Regions from separate parts of the Homo sapiens genome. Here region 2 is linked to region 1. The links come from fine-mapping of genetic effects on gene expression. Tissue or cell type: tibial artery. Region 1 holds a variant in brackets; the other region holds the start of a gene. All regions are shown on one strand. Distances are between the middles of the regions.

The links. PIP is the estimated chance that this variant, and not a neighbour inherited with it, causes the effect.
Region 2: IL6R starts here. The variant in region 1 is fine-mapped to the expression of IL6R in tibial artery (GTEx, PIP 0.96).

The regions. Positions count from the first base shown.
Region 1 is chr1:154,430,451-154,438,450 of GRCh38, forward strand. It overlaps IL6R (interleukin 6 receptor), which reads left to right. Exons shown (of 10, transcript NM_000565.4): 3 at 33-156; 4 at 4,069-4,250; 5 at 4,540-4,706; 6 at 5,519-5,660. Among named protein-coding and RNA genes, the nearest start is that of IL6R-AS1, 28 kb to the left of the region's middle. RefSeq lists enhancers at 1,567-2,400, 2,401-3,232, 3,233-4,066. The variant A/C (reference allele first, on the strand shown) is at 4,493.
Region 2 is chr1:154,401,818-154,409,817 of GRCh38, forward strand. It overlaps IL6R (interleukin 6 receptor), which reads left to right and starts at 3,526. Exons shown (of 10, transcript NM_000565.4): 1 at 3,526-3,897. The coding sequence starts at 3,813. It overlaps IL6R-AS1 (IL6R antisense RNA 1), which reads right to left and starts at 4,747. Exons shown (of 2, transcript NR_147855.1): 1 at 4,622-4,747; 2 at 504-2,140. RefSeq lists silencers at 3,331-3,460, 3,661-3,810 and an enhancer at 4,050-4,656.

The sequences.
Region 1 (8,000 bases):
GCCTGCTGACACCTGCAATGCTTTCCTTTCAGTTCCCCCCGAGGAGCCCCAGCTCTCCTGCTTCCGGAAGAGCCCCCTCAGCAATGTTGTTTGTGAGTGGGGTCCTCGGAGCACCCCATCCCTGACGACAAAGGCTGTGCTCTTGGTGAGGAAGTTGTAAGTATCTTGGGCTGAGCTATGTGCATGTTGGCTCCCTCCTTCCCGAGGCCCCCCAGAGAGGGGCTGGTTCAGGTGATTTCAAAACATTATCATTAGGAATTAATTCCTTCAGGCTGAGGAAGAGGAGATGAGAGGGAACTGAGATTTACATTTGACTGCCCCCCCTGAGCTAGGCACTGTGCTTGTGCTTGGAACCTTGTCCTATTCACTTGACCTTGGTTATCACAACAGCTATGGGAAGTGGGCTTTATTTTTCTCACTTAACAGATGGAGAGACTGAGGCCCAGAGACTGATTAACAGGTTTGGTTCACTTAGCTAGTAAGTGGCTCTGCTGGGAATTCAATCCCAGTCTGTCTGATTTCATTCAAAGTCCGAAGATTATGGGCGTTGCTCTGAAAAACATGCAAATATCCCTGGGAGGGGGTGTAGCACAGCCAGACCATTATCAGTGTCTGGGCCCTTGTGGGCGTATCAGGCTATTTCCATGATAAAGACACGAGAGAGAAAGCGGTGATGGGCGGGGGAGAGGGAGCTTGGGGCCGTGGGGGGAGAAGTCACGCCTGCCTGGGGGCTCTGCATCATCACCGGAAGACGGCTTAACGTGGGAAGACCTGGGATGGGTTCAGGCATGGATGTAGAGGAGGTGGAAGATGCTGAAAACAAATCTGCCTCTGCAGTTTTGCTGGTCTCCATCCCAGAGCCACAGTCTCCCTTAGTCCAGAGGTTTACAATTGAGTTTGAGCTGTCAGTCATCAGAATATAGGGCAAGGAGGTCGCATTCCAAGACCCCTAGTGGATGCCTGAAATCGCAAATGGTGCTGAACCCTATATATAGTATGTTTTTCTATAGATATGTACTTATGATAGTTTAATTTATAAATTAGGTGCAGTAAGAGGTTAGCAATAACTAAAAATAGCATAGAACAGTGATAACAATATACTGTAATAACAGTTATGTGAATGTGGTCTCTCTGTTTCTCAAAATGTCTTATTACTGTACTCACCCTTCTTGTGATGATATGAGGTTGTGAAATGCCTGCATGATGGGATGAAGTGAGGTGAATGATGTAGGCATTGTGACTCAGTGTTAGGCTACTAGGGCTTTCTGACCATGTGTTAGAAGGAGGATCAGCTGTTTTGGGTGACTCTGGGTCACCGAGCCATGATGATGGCGGTGGATGTCAGGACGAGTGATGGGTAGCATGCACAGCGCAGGAATGCTGAACAAAGTGATGATTCATGTCCTGGGCGGGACGGTGTGAAATCTCGTCACACTTCTCAGAACAGTGGGCACTTTAAAATTTCTGAAGTGATTATTTATGGAATTTCCCATTTAATATTTTTGGACCGCAGTTGACCACAGGTAGCCGAAATCTTGGAAAGCAAAACCTCAGATAAGGCAGGACTACTGTATCAGAAAGCCAGAGCAGTGACTTCAATAGGGTGGTTCAGCTCCCACTTGGGTCTGTTTCCATAGAGTTACTGGGCTGCCTGGCAGTCATGTTTTTGTTCTGTCCTCTATGATGAAAAGTGCGGATTACCATCTGTGAATGATGCAGCTGCCATTAGCACTGTCAGCTCATGCCCCAAGCCTGGATAGCTTCACAGCCCAGCAAAGGATACACCTTGTTTGTACCTCAAAGGCTTGTACCATAGATAGGATTAGCCAGGATAGAGACTGTGGCTGGCAGCTTCCCAGGCCAGCCTGTGGAAAGCTCTGTCATTTCTGACACTTCAACTGAAATACTTTTTTTTTTTTTTTTTTGAGATGGAGTTTCGCTCTGTCGCCCAGGCTGGAGTGCAGTGGTGGGATCTCGGCTCACTGCAATCTCCGCCTCCCGGGCTCAAGCGATTCTCCTGCCTCAGCCTCCTGAGTAGCTGGGATTACAGGCGCACACCACCACGCCTGGCTAATCTTTGTATTTTTAGTAGAGATGAGGTTTCACCATGTTAGCGGGGCTGGTCTCGAACTTCTGACCTAGGGTGATCCGCCTGTCTCGGCCTCCCAAAGTGCTGGGATTACAGGCGTGAGCCACCGCGCCCGGCTTGACTGGAATACTTTCCATGTTGACAGCGGGAGTGGGAGAGAGTACAGTGCTTGTCCTCCCGAGCAGCCTCGTGCCTTTGCTTCCATCTGCTTTGAAGAGTCAGCATGACCACTGGGCGCCTTTGAAGTGAGGAAAGAGCAGGGGAAGTGGCTTCGAGAGCCTCAGGGGCCCCAGCCCCCACTGAGGCCCCACCCAGACCTCAGGCCACTGCAGGGCCTGGAAGAGACAGGCCCCTGGAAAGGGATTACTGGGAGCTCTGCTTTTTCTCTTGTGTGTCTGCTTTCACACCCTTGCCCAACTGCAGCACTGCTCCCTCCTTCTTCCACAGGCAGGGGTGAGCTCAGCCTCTGCCTTGGACCAGGCGCAGTGCTGGGGCAGTGGGAGGAAGCGGGCCAACAAGACTGAGCCCCGGCCCTCTGACCCCACCTGGGCACACACGTAAAGCAGTCGGTGACCCTGCCTTCGTGGCTGGGTGGAAGCCTGGGTGGTGTTGGGGGAAGGAGGAAAGGGGCTTTAACTCAGCCTGGAAAGGTTGGGTTTGTCCCATGTGCTGGATTCAGCAGGAGCCCAGGGTTCGAACCCAAGTCAGAGGTGGCAGACTCGTCACCCCAGCTGGAGGGTGAGTGGTTGACGTGGCCTCACATGCCCACATGTGTCATAAGAGGGTGAAGCCTCAGGTTTCCAGGCCAGGTGGGATGGTGGCTGACTCACCTCGAATGTCTTCAGTTACCCAGAATTCTTTTCTGGACTCACCTGCCAGAACCCCTCTAGCACTTTTTGTGTCTCTGGAGTGGCATTTCTGCTGGGTGTCTAGTCATCTGAGGACAGATCTTTTTTGTTAGTGCCTTGAAGGCAGGGTGGGGCCTCTCTTGATTCATTTCTATATCCCCTACAGTGCCAAGAGCACAGGCCCAGCGGGAGACCAGAGCTGGCCAGCCGACCATTGCCTGAGTGACTAGCTGAGCCCTCCAGCCTAGCTCCCCTCACCCCTCGTGCCAGGCGCTAGGCTACATGTTTATATATATTTGTAAATCCAGCTAGTTTCCTCATCTCTAGATTTTACATTTATTGCTCAATTTTTTTTTTTTGAGATGGAGTCTCTGTCGCCCAGGCTGGAGTGCAGTCTCTGTCACTGCAACATCTGCCTCCTGGGTTCAAGTGATTCTTCTGCTTCAGCCTCCTGAGTAACTGGGACTACAGGCATGCGCCACCACGCCAGGCTAATTTTTTATTTTATTTTTTGTATTTTTAGTAGAGACAGGGTTTCACCATATTGGCTAGGCTGGTCTCGAACTCCTGACCTCATGATCTGCCTGCGTTGCCCTCCCAAAGTGCTAGAATTACAGGCGTGAGCCACCGCGCCCGGCCTTATTTCTCAGTCTTAACAGAACCAGCCACGTGTGATTGTTCATGCCTGTAATCCCAGCACTTTGGGAGGCTGAGGCGGGCAGATCACCTGAGGTCAGCAGTTCGAGACCAGCCTGGGCAACATGGTGAAACCCCATCTCTATTAAAAATACAAAAATTTGCTGGGCACGCTCAGGAGGCTGAGGCAGGAGAATCTCTTGAACCTGGGAGGGAGGCGGAGGTTGCAGTGAGCCGAGACTGCGCCACTGCACTCCAGCCTGGGTGACACAGTGAGACTCTATCACAAAAACAAAACAAAACAAAAACTTAACCCCTACTAGGTAAGTAGTATTAATATTCCTATTTTCAAATGAGAAAAGGAGACTTAGAGGCACAGGGCTTATAAGTCTGGAGCTGGGATTCAAACCCCGGGATTCCACTTCCCCCTTCTGTCCCGTCTTGAGTCTGTGCGAAACTGACAGGCAAGCCCTGCCCTTGTTTTGTGTCTAACAGTCAGAACAGTCCGGCCGAAGACTTCCAGGAGCCGTGCCAGTATTCCCAGGAGTCCCAGAAGTTCTCCTGCCAGTTAGCAGTCCCGGAGGGAGACAGCTCTTTCTACATAGTGTCCATGTGCGTCGCCAGTAGTGTCGGGAGCAAGTTCAGCAAAACTCAAACCTTTCAGGGTTGTGGAATCTGTACGTAAGCTCTAACCCCCTCTCCAGCAGTTTCCTTCTCTTTTGATTTAATACTCCTTATCGACTTCTCAGAGTGGCAGGGAAGGGGTGGTTGAGGGGTTTGGTGAGTTGGTGCCTTTTGGGCGTTGCTTGCCGGGAGGTGTGGCAATGATAAAGCAGGCCCTTGTGGAGCTGTGCATGGGGAGTGAACGGGGCTGGGTGGGGCCCTGCTTGCTGGGATCTCAGCCTACATGGGCTTCTCT[A/C]CACTATATTTGGTGCTGCAAAGGAGTCATGCTCACTTTTCCCACAGTGCAGCCTGATCCGCCTGCCAACATCACAGTCACTGCCGTGGCCAGAAACCCCCGCTGGCTCAGTGTCACCTGGCAAGACCCCCACTCCTGGAACTCATCTTTCTACAGACTACGGTTTGAGCTCAGATATCGGGCTGAACGGTCAAAGACATTCACAACATGGATGGTAAATTTATGTTTTACTTCTGGTCAGAGAGGCGCCCCTAGATGCTTAGGCGTAGTAGAAAGGGTACTAGAGGCCAGGCATGGTGGCTCACGCCTGTAATCCCGGCCCTTTGGGAGGCCAAGGTGGGCGAATCACTTGAGGTCAGGAGTTCGAGACCATCCTGGCCAACATGGTGAAATACCGTCTCTACTAAAATTACAAAAAATTAGCTGGGTGTGGTGGCGCACGCCTGTATCCCAGCTATTCGGGGGCTGAGACAGGAGAATCCCTTGAACCTGGGAGGTGGAGGTTGCGGTGAGCAGAGATCACACCACTGCACTCCAGCCTGGGCGACAGAGTTAGACTCCATGTCAAAAAAAAAAAAAAATAGAAAGGGTACTAAAAGGAAAACCATAGGCTCTAGTTCCTGCTTCACAATTGGCTACCTTCGTTGCTTTGGATAAATGTTTTAAGCTTTCTGAGCCTTGGTGGTATATCATTTATTAAATGAAAAGGATAATGCCAGGCCAGTCTCCTCTTCCCGGGCTTGTCTGTGAGGAGAGCAATGTGGGAAGAGATTTGGGCTGTAGACATGTCAAGGGTTGTGGCTTGCAGGATTCTATAGTGCATGGGTGGGGCAGGGACTTTCTGCTTCAGCTTCCGTGGGCCCTGAGGGCAACCCCCTCTCTAGCAGAGCCTCTGGGGTTGTGGGAGCCTCTAGAGGCCTCTGCCAGCTGAAGCACAGGGCTGGCCAAGGCACCAACCCACTGGGGTGCTACCTGCCCAGCACCATCCTGGATACCTCCCCAGAGTCACCGTGCCCCCGCCCTCAGGTCAAGGACCTCCAGCATCACTGTGTCATCCACGACGCCTGGAGCGGCCTGAGGCACGTGGTGCAGCTTCGTGCCCAGGAGGAGTTCGGGCAAGGCGAGTGGAGCGAGTGGAGCCCGGAGGCCATGGGCACGCCTTGGACAGGTACTGCGGTGGGCACTGAGAAAGGAAGGGATGTTTCAACTGTCATTGCATCAGGTATCCATTGCTATGTGACAAGTTGCCTCAAAACTAGTGGCTTAGGCCAGGTGTGGTGGCTCACACCTGTAATCCCAGCACTTTGGGAGGCTGAGGCGGGTGGATTGCCTGAGGTCAGCCTGGCCAACATGGTGAAACCCTGTCTCTACGAAAAATACAAAAAATTAGCTGGACATGGTGGCAGGTGCCTGTAATTCCAGCTACTCAGGAGGCTGAGGCAGGAGAATCTCTTGAACCCAGGAGGCGGAGGTTGCAGTGAGCCGAAATCGCGCCACTGCACTCCAGCCTGGGTGATAAGAACGAAACTCCGTCTCAAAACAAACAACTAGTGGCTTAAAAACGACCATCATTTATCGGCTTGAAATTTCAAAAATACAGTCAGTTAGGCAGCTCTTCTGCTGGTCTTGCCTGAATCAGGAATGCAGCTGCCATCAGATTGGGATGGTCTGAGATGGCCTCAGTCACATGTCTGACGATGGTGCTGGCTGGTGGCCGAGGCCCTGGGTTCTCCCTGTGGCTTCTCATCCTCAGCTGCCAGCCCAGACTCAGGGCAGGCGGGTGGGGATCCCACCACAGCTGGAGGGATGCACTGCAGAGAAGTTAGCCGTATTTAATCTAGGGCTTTTTATTTTTTTCAAATGTTAAAGGTAGTAATAATTGCCATTGGGGATTGTTGAAATTAGAGCATGAAAAATTCCAGAAAGATATGAAGAATAATTATCACCAGTACTTTTACTCCCTAGAGAAAACCAGTGAGAACATGTTAGTATGCTGCTTTCCTTTTTCTAGGTACATGTATGTGTGTGTGTATTTATATATATAAATGTAATATTCCCCATGTTGTCAATTACTTTTGGAAACTTATTATTTAGTAACTGCCTGATTAATACATATATTTTAAAACTCCATGGAAATTTGTTGTTGTTGTTGTTGTTTTGTTTGTTTGTTTTGAGACGGAGTCTCACTCTGTCACCCAGGCTGGAGTGCAGTGGCATGATCTTGGCTCACTGCAAGCTCCGCTTTCCAGGTTCATGCCATTCTCCTGCCTCAGCCTGCCGAGCAGCCGGGACTACAGGCACCTGCCACCACGCCCAGCTAATTTTTTCTATTTTTTAGTAGAGACGGGGTTTCACCGTGTTAGCCAGGATGGTCTCAATCTCCTGACCTTGTGATCCACCCGCCTCAGCCTCCCAAAGTGCTGGGATTATAGGCATGAGTCACTGTGCCCGGTCGGAAATTTTTTTTAACTTAAATTTTTTTTTTTTTGAAGACAGGCTTTCTCCTCGTTGCCCAGGATGGAGTACAGCAGTGCAATCACAGCTCACGGCAACTTCTGCCTCCTGGGTTCAAGCAATCCTCCCGCCTCAGCCTCCTAAGTAGCTGGGACCACAGGCGTGTGCCACAATGCTAATTTTTTAAAAATGTTTTGTAGAGACAGGGTTTCACCATGCTGCCCAGGCTGGTCTCGAACTCCTGGCCTCAAGTGATCCACCAGCCTCAGACTCCCAAAGTGCTGGGATTACTGGTGTGAGCCACTGCACCTGACTAAACTTTAAATTTTTTTTTTTAGACGGAATCTCGCTCTGTTGCCCAGGCTGGAGTGCAGTGGCATGATATTGGCTCACTGCAAGCTCTGCCTCTTGGGTTCACGCTATTCTCCTGCCTCAGCCTCCTGAGTAGCTGGGACTACAGGTGCACACCACCACGCCCGGCTAATTTTTTTTTTTTTTTAGTAGAGACGGGGTTTCACTGTGTTGGCCAGGCTGGTCTTGAACTCCTGACCTCGTGATCCACCCGCCTCGCCCTCCCAAAATGCTGGGATTACAGGTGTGAGCCACCGCGCCTGGCCTAAACTTTTAAAATTTTAATCAAATTAATACATGCACATGGCAAAGAAGTAATAAACAGCTTATAACACTGAGCAGTGGTCCCTTGTCCCATGCCTTCCATTTCTAGTCCTGCTTTCTAAGGAAGCTGCTTGACTCTTTCTGTTTCTAGTTCCTCTGTTGGTGCCCTCCTTAACTCTAAACAACAAGCTTATATGGCTTTTTTTTTTCCCTGATAAAACCACTTGAGACATTATCTATCAACACCCTGCTATGAAAGGTTAGGATTTAGCAGATCTAGAATGCAAGAATCTCCCTGACCACAACCCAGAGAGTGGTCAGCCAGCCTCTGCTTAAATGCTTCCAGAGACAGAGAGCTTACTACCCCTTGCAGCAATCTGTTTTATTGTTCCCAGTGTTTTTGTTGTAGAATGGCTTCATGGCTCACTTTGGGGTCAAA
Region 2 (8,000 bases), 29 kb before region 1:
GCCTGACTCTGAGGGATGCCACTGGCCAGACACTGAGTTCTGTTATTAGACCTCTGTCTGCCCACGTAACCTCCTCCCAGGCTGATGAGAAAGCAGGAGGGGAAGGTTTCAGAGAATAAGAAGCACCTTCCTGTAATTATTGATTAACCAGGGGCTGGCTCCAGGGCCAGAGGCCAGGGAGGGGTCTGCAGGTCAGTTCAGCCCTACCCCACTGCACTTCTCAGAATAATCGTTGTCCCTAAAGATGGATTCACATGGTGAATAGAGAATAAAGTGCATAGTTTTAAACTCTCACAGTTGAGAATGGCCCCAACACATCAGCCCAGACCTGGAGGTTGGGGGCAGGGTGGGAATTTAAAAAGACCACTTTGAGTCAGGGTATCTGGGATCTTGACCAGCTCTGTCACCACTGCCTGTGCCATCTTTACCAAGCAACTTCTCTTCTTGAGGCCTAGCTCCTTATCTAAAAAGTGAGGGAGGAGAAGCAATGATGACCAAGTCCCTTTTGGTTTCAAAATAACCTTACATATTTATTCTGTGGGTCTCCTGTAGACTTCTGCTTTAGGCAAACTTTAAGATGCTTCATCGCTTCAGGTGAAAGGTGAGAGAGGACTTGCTTGCTGGGAGTCAGCCTAGGGCTTCCCCCTTTACAGGAGACGGAGGGTCCCTGCAGGAACACCGGTGAAGGAGAGGGTGTCCCACACACCAGGTTCTGCTCTCTGCTCTCCCCTCACAGACTACAGAACACCAAGTGCCTGCTGCCATGGTCTGCAGTGTCTTTGGTCCTGGGTGGGCCGACCGAGCCCTTGCTCAGTGAGAGTCCTGGGCCAGGAGCCAGACCTCACCCTGGAGCTGCCAGTTACTAGTAGTGCAGTTTTGAACAAGCCACTTTACCTCTGTTAGCCTCAGTCTACTCATCTGAAAATTGGGGGCAATGTCTCCCAGCATTCAGGGTTGAGAATTTCAGAGGAGATTGTGTATGTAAAGCAATTTGTAAGCAGCACAGTTATCTGAGAAGTGTTCTGGCTCAGACAACTAAAGTCTTCATTGTTCCTTCTGTTGTCTGGGTGAGGGCAGGTCAGGCTGAATTGTGCAGGTATGCTTTCTTCTCTTTCTTTTTTCTTTTTCTTTTCTTTTTTTTGAGAGGGAGTTTCGTTCTTCTTGCCCAGGCTGGAGTGCAGTGGTGCCATCTCGGTTCACTGCAACCTCCGCCTCCTGGGTTCAAGTGATTCTCCTGCCTCAGCCTCCTGAGTAGCTGGGACTACCGGTACGCACCACCATGCCCGGCTAATTTTTGTATTTTTAGTAGAGATGTGGTTTTACCATGTTGGTCAGGCTGGTCTCGAACTCCTGACCTCATGATCTGCCCACCTTGGCCTCCCAAAGTGCTGGAATTACAGGTGTGAGGCACCACGTCCGGCCTGGCCAGGATTAAATTTTTTCATGTGAACCACAACACTAAAACTTTGTATATTGCTGCGCTTATCTTACAAATCAGGAAATAGGGGTTCAGAGAAGTTAAATAGCTTGCTTAAGTCACACAGCCAGCAAGTGGTAAAGCTGGGATCTGCATGACTACAGAGCACACAGGCTCCCCACCAGTAGATTAGAGAGGGGGAGGTCTGCTTTGGTGCAGAGACAGGTGGGATCTGTGATGCCCGTTCTTGGTTTCAACATTCTTTTAAACTCTCCTATCTGAGCCTAGGACTTTCTGCAGCCTTCCTGTTTTAGGCTGGCAGCTCACAGTCCCTCTCTGGTTATTTTCAGGTCTGTGTGTGCCACAGAGAGGAAGGGGGCAACCACAGTGGGAACCGCTTTCCAGCCCTGCTGCAACCCCTTTTGAAATAGCAGGCGAGAGGGCTGGTGGCCTCCACTGTGCTCTTCTGTTCCTGTCTGTGGGCATGGCTAAAGCAAACAAGCTCACCCACACCAGCTCCCATCGTGCGGTGGATCAGTGCATGTGCTTGGTTCTGTCTGGCACTGCTGATGGGTGGTTCCTACAGAAAGATCCAGATGCACGGGGTCTGAGGACTGTTTCAGAAGCTCTGTCCGTCCATGCCTGGCCCTGTCCACTTGGGAGTTCCATTAGGCCATGCCTGTTCCAGCTGTCCCAGGATCTTTGATCTGGGTTAGGATTGGCCTGAAACCAAAGGTAGAAAAACACATTCTAATGAGCAGTTGCTGGTCTAGAAGCTTCTCAGCCTAAACTTTATTTCAGCATTTTTCTTTCCCTCCAGATTCAGCTATGAGGCCATCCTATCAGCTTTAGGCTCTGTGGGGGTCCTTGAGAGAGTTCCCCTCCAAGGGACGGACAGATGGTCCCCTTCAAGGTCCTTGTGGTTGCTCAAAAGCCAGGTGCTTGTTTCTTTCTTTTTTTCTCTCCTTCCTTTCCTTCCTTCCCCTCTATCCCTCCTTCCCTCCCTCCCTCCCTCCTCCCTTCCTTTTCTTTCTTTCTTTTCTTTTTTTTTTTTTCTTTCCAGACAGGGTCTCACTGTCATCCAGGCTGGAGTAGCAGCCCCCAATCACGGCTCACTGTACCCTGGATCTCCCGGACTCAAGCAATTTTCCCACCTCAGCTTCCCTAGTAGCTGGGACTATAGGTGTGTACCACCACACCCAGCTAATTTTTAAATTTTTTTATAGAAATGGGGGTCTCACTTTGTTACACAGGCTGGTCTAGAATTCCTGGACTGAAGCAATCCACCCACCCGGCTCTCCCAAAGTGTTGGGGTTACAGGCGTGAGCCACTGCCCCTGGTGTTAGTGTCTGTCTGTCAAGTCAGGAGGGCAGCCATGAACGTTCTGATGTCTACTGAGCACGTGTGGCCCAGACCGTGTGTCAGGTGTTTAGGTGCCATCCACAGAACCTTCCTAATAACCCTGGGCAGCATAGGCTTTCTTATCTCTGACAGATGAGGAAATGGAGACTCAGATTCTGAACCGAAGTCACAGACACAGTAGATGGTAGGTCTAAATGGGGACCCAGGTCTATCTGACTGCAAAGTCCAAACCGTTTCCTTGCCTCTGCTGCAGCCTGCGAGGAGCAGCTGGGCAGAAAGACTGTGCCTTTACGGTGGTGAGTCTTCCGATGCCCAAGCCTCACCCCAGACCGATGAAATCAGAATCTCTGGAGACCCGACCCAGACATTGGTGGGTTTTAGGGCTCCTGGCTGATTCCAGTGGGCAACCGGGCTACCAAGCACTGTTTTACCCTAAGGGTAAGAGGAACATCGCCTCCTCGAGGGCTCTCCAGGTGTGCCTTTCACAGCGTAATCCCGTTCACGAAACCAAAAATCAAAACTAGGCCACTGCCCACTGGTGGCTGATACGCCCTTTTCTCATCAACAGAACCGGGAGGAAGGGCTCTGGTGGGGCTGGCGGTCCCCTGTTCTCCCCGCTCAGGTGCGGCGCTGTGGCAGGAAGCCACCCCCTCGGTCGGCCGGTGCGCGGGGCTGTTGCGCCATCCGCTCCGGCTTTCGTAACCGCACCCTGGGACGGCCCAGAGACGCTCCAGCGCGAGTTCCTCAAATGTTTTCCTGCGTTGCCAGGACCGTCCGCCGCTCTGAGTCATGTGCGAGTGGGAAGTCGCACTGACACTGAGCCGGGCCAGAGGGAGAGGAGCCGAGCGCGGCGCGGGGCCGAGGGACTCGCAGTGTGTGTAGAGAGCCGGGCTCCTGCGGATGGGGGCTGCCCCCGGGGCCTGAGCCCGCCTGCCCGCCCACCGCCCCGCCCCGCCCCTGCCACCCCTGCCGCCCGGTTCCCATTAGCCTGTCCGCCTCTGCGGGACCATGGAGTGGTAGCCGAGGAGGAAGCATGCTGGCCGTCGGCTGCGCGCTGCTGGCTGCCCTGCTGGCCGCGCCGGGAGCGGCGCTGGCCCCAAGGCGCTGCCCTGCGCAGGGTAAGGGCTTCGGGCGCACCTGGAGGGCTGGGGCAGCTAGCGGCTGGGGGAAACCGCCTTGGTCACCGCAGTCTGTGGGAGGCTGGAGGGAGGAAAGGAGGTGCGACGGATCCCCTTTTCTGTGGCTGCCTTGAGGCCCCGCGGGTACCTAGCTGTGTGGTCGCGGGTAGTGGCTCTTGCGCCCCCTGCTGCGCTTGCTCCCTTGGTCCGGAGCGCTCCCCGGAATGCCCGGTGAAGCTGTGCGGGAACCCTGCGGTCTGTGTACAGGACTGTGTCCTTGCAAACCTGACTCTCGAGCTTCCTTCCCAGTGCCCCCAGGAGCCTTTACACAACCGCGTCCCAGGTTACTCTAAGGGGAGACTGCCCGAGAGGGCGCGCCCCAGCGGGGTGATGTACCCGCCTGGGGAGTCCTTTGTACCAGCGCCCCTCTTCTCCCTCTGCATTGGGGGTCCACCTCGCCTGGTCCTCCCCCCACCCCCGCGGGTGCATGTGTGGATGACAGTGCCCTGACTATGAAGGGACTGACATCACGGGCGCTGAGTCACGGATCTTCCCGCTGCACGGAGTCACTTTGGCAGCCACCAACTCTGGGAAGCCAAGTGCCCCAGTCCTGGGAATTGAGTCGGGAGGCTGGCAAGGGAGTGAGACCTCCTGGGGCTGGCACGTGCTGGACTCCCCTCTAGAAAAGAGAAGGACCCGTGAGGGAGAGGGCAGAGGCACTTACTGCTCCCGTTGACTGTAATCTGCCCCTGGCAAACCAGGCTTTTCTTGGGCTCTGGCCGCATGCCCAGCTGCGTGTCTAGTCTCTCTTCTGGAAGAGTTGGGCAACTGGCTCTCCAGAGGTTTATTTTAGGGTCCCAGTGCTTCTTTGAGGACACAGCAGAAAACTAAGGGGCAGCTGACAGGCTTCTGGAACAGCTGACAGGCTGGGGAGGCTGAAGGCTAAGACTTTCAACCACTAGATCACACTGAATTCCAGTCCTAGGTGAACACTGATCTCTCCCTTTGAGGAGGTGACTTTCTGCAACTAGAGGCTGAGCTGGAGTGTCTGAGGCTCTCTTTGCTTTTTGGATGGTTGTGGTCCTTATGATTGGAAGAAAAAAAGAAGGGATTCCATTTTCAATACACATTTATAACTCCTGCCAGTAACAGACACTGTTGATTGGGGCACCCATTCAATGTTTTCTAATCCTCCACTGTATCTACATATAACTTTGTTTGAAAGAGGAGACTGAGGTTCAGGGAGGTTGGGATGGCGGGATGGCAGGTTGTCAGGCCCCGGTGATGGAGGCCAACCCCTCCCGTGGCTCTGTGCTCCAGTGTGGTAGATGTCTAAGACTCTCAAATATAGAACTAGATCAGCAGGCAGAGCTGGGGGCATTGGGGCAAGCTGAGAGTCACTCTTGTCTGGCTGAGTGCTGGGACAGAAAAGGCTGAGGGAGGGAAGTGGAGGCCCAGGCTTGCCCATGGTGGTGTTAGAGGGATGCAAGACAGGTTCCAGGGCTCGGATGGCCTCAGGAGCAAGCAGGGCTCCCTTGGCTGCCTCTGCTGCTGTCACGCCAGCCCAAGGCTCCTGCCCCAGGGAGGTTACTGTTACTGCTGTAGTTGCCACCACCTGTTGCTCCTGAGTGGATGCTAGGCCCTTCCAGGGCAGCCAGTTACAGTCAGTTTTCCATTTCCCTGGTGCTCAGGAAGGATTAGGAGAGGTGGTCTCATGGCCTGAACAGCCCATGAAAGGCAGAACTGAGAGACTGGGGAGGAAGTGAAAGTCCTCCCAGCTCAGAAGGAAAATGCAGAGAAGTAGAAATACCCAGCCCCTCTCCCACACCCACACAGACTCAGCCCACAAACTGGAGAGTAAAAATAAAGAAATCGTACAGGAAGCATGGAGCAAATGACTGTGAGATGTTTCGCTTTAGAGAAGTGAGGAGCAGAGGGGGAGCAGAGGCTGGAGTTGGCTGAGAGGGGAAATCCGCAGGTACAGCCTGCGGGGCTCTTAGAGCCCAGAGGTTTGTTTTCCTCGGGATCAGCTGCCGCCCACACACCCTGGAGCTGCCAGGACTTCTCAGGTGTACTCGTTGTCTAAGGGCCTGGACTAGCTGGGACTTAGGCTTCTGCCGGTTCCAACACTCTGGTGCTGGAAGGCTGGACTTGGGTGACTCAAGTTCCCTCTTCCTACTGCAATGCAAGAAAATACACAAAAGAAGTATGTATACCTTTAAGTATCTCAAAGAGCTATCTCAGCTTCTGAATTTCCTTCTAGGGCACCTCTTCCTGCCCCCATTACCCACACACGTGCCTAGCCTCACCCTAAATCAGTATTTCTCAAAAGCTTAGTTCTGAGCCTAGCATCAGATCTGGTGTGTGTGCTGGGTGGGAGGGCTTTGGTAAACATGATGATTTTTGAACCCTAACCCAGATTTATTAAATAAGAACACCTAGGAGTGAGGCCTGGGGCATGTCCTTTTAAACAAACTGCCCCTTGTGATTCTTAGGCACTGTCAGGTTTGAGGACGGCTGCCTAAATGGTGTCATTGAGGAACTGAATGAAGGCCCTCCCGCTTCGGGCTCTCTGTTGCCAGAAATCTCTCCTTGCTTTGGCTTGCTGCTTGTTTATTCATTGCAGCAAACATTTCTTGAGTCGGTGTAGAGCCTGTGAGGCCTGTGTAGGATCAGCTATGCAGACTCCACCCTAAAAGGAGCCTGAAAATGGTCATGGGTAAATCCTGAGAAGGGCTGAGAAACCCCAGACTCTGACCGGGCCACTGGGTACCAACTACCCGTGAACAGATTGTCTGGCTTGGGGTAGGGGGTGGTTAGAGAGAGGAAGTTCCTCTGACTGAGGACCAAGATCCCAAGGCAGCAGGCACACTGATCCTGACCCTGACCCTCATCTCCAGCCCTCAGCAGCCAGGGTAAACAAATACTCCCCTCACTGGGTATTTGTAGATTACACAAAGTAACCTAGGTGCTGACTGCTGAAAATATACACTCCCTTCCCCCGTCTCCTGAATCCTGGTCCCACCAGGCCTGGAAGCCACAGACCCAGCAAGCAAAAGAGTTTCCAGTCAATGAATCTAGTCTGGATTGAAGCTGTGCTCTGTAATACGGTAGCCACTAGCCACGTGTACCTATTTAAATTTAAATTATGCCAGCGCAGTGACTCACGCCTGTAATCCCAGTACTTTGGGAGGCTGAGGCAGGAGGATCTCTTGAGCTCAGGAGTTGGAGACCAGCCTGGGCAACAGGGTGAGATGCCGTCTCTACAAAAAGATTTAAAAAATTAGCTGGGCACAGTGACATGAGCCTGTAGTCCCTGCTACTGAGAAGGCTGAGGTGGGAGAATCACTTGAGTCCAGTCTGCATGGAGCCATGTTTGCACTACCGAATTCCAGTCTGGGCGACAGGAGACCCTGTCTCCAAAAAATTAATTTAAATGAAATCAAATAAAAACTTAGTTTCTTAGTTGCACTAGTCACATTTTAAGTGCTCAACACTCACATTGCTAGTGGCTACTGTACTGAACAGTGCAGATACAGATCTCTTCCATCATCGTGGAAAGCCCTACTGGACGGTGCTGGGCTAGAGTGTTAACCAGTTTCTTCCAGAGGTTTTCTGTTCTCTTTTCCTTTATCCCCCTCTGCCTTCTGCTCTCCTCCACCTGAACACAGCTCATTTTGCATAGGTGATGGCTAAGGTCTTCAAGCCAGGCACATCTCTGCCCTGCACTGCCAAGTAAAAATGATAACACCTTGGGCAAGTGATTTAACTTCTTTGACAGCCAGTGTTCTAGAAAATAGAAATAATTGTATTACCTCGAAGGGTGGTTATGAAGATGAGATGAGCTAAGTAAGGTATTAAATAGAGTGTTTACAGAAGTCCCTAACACACAGCAAGTGCTTAAATAAGTGTAGGTGATCATTCATTCACTCCAAAAATATATTTTTGGAGTGAACACCTCCTACTCTGTTCCAGGCACTATTCTAAGAGCTGGAGATACACCATGAATAAAAGAGACAAAAACCCCAGGCTTAGTTGAGTTTCATTCTAGTGTGGGAGACTATTAACAGGATGTAAATTAAGTATGTGGTATGCTAGCGACT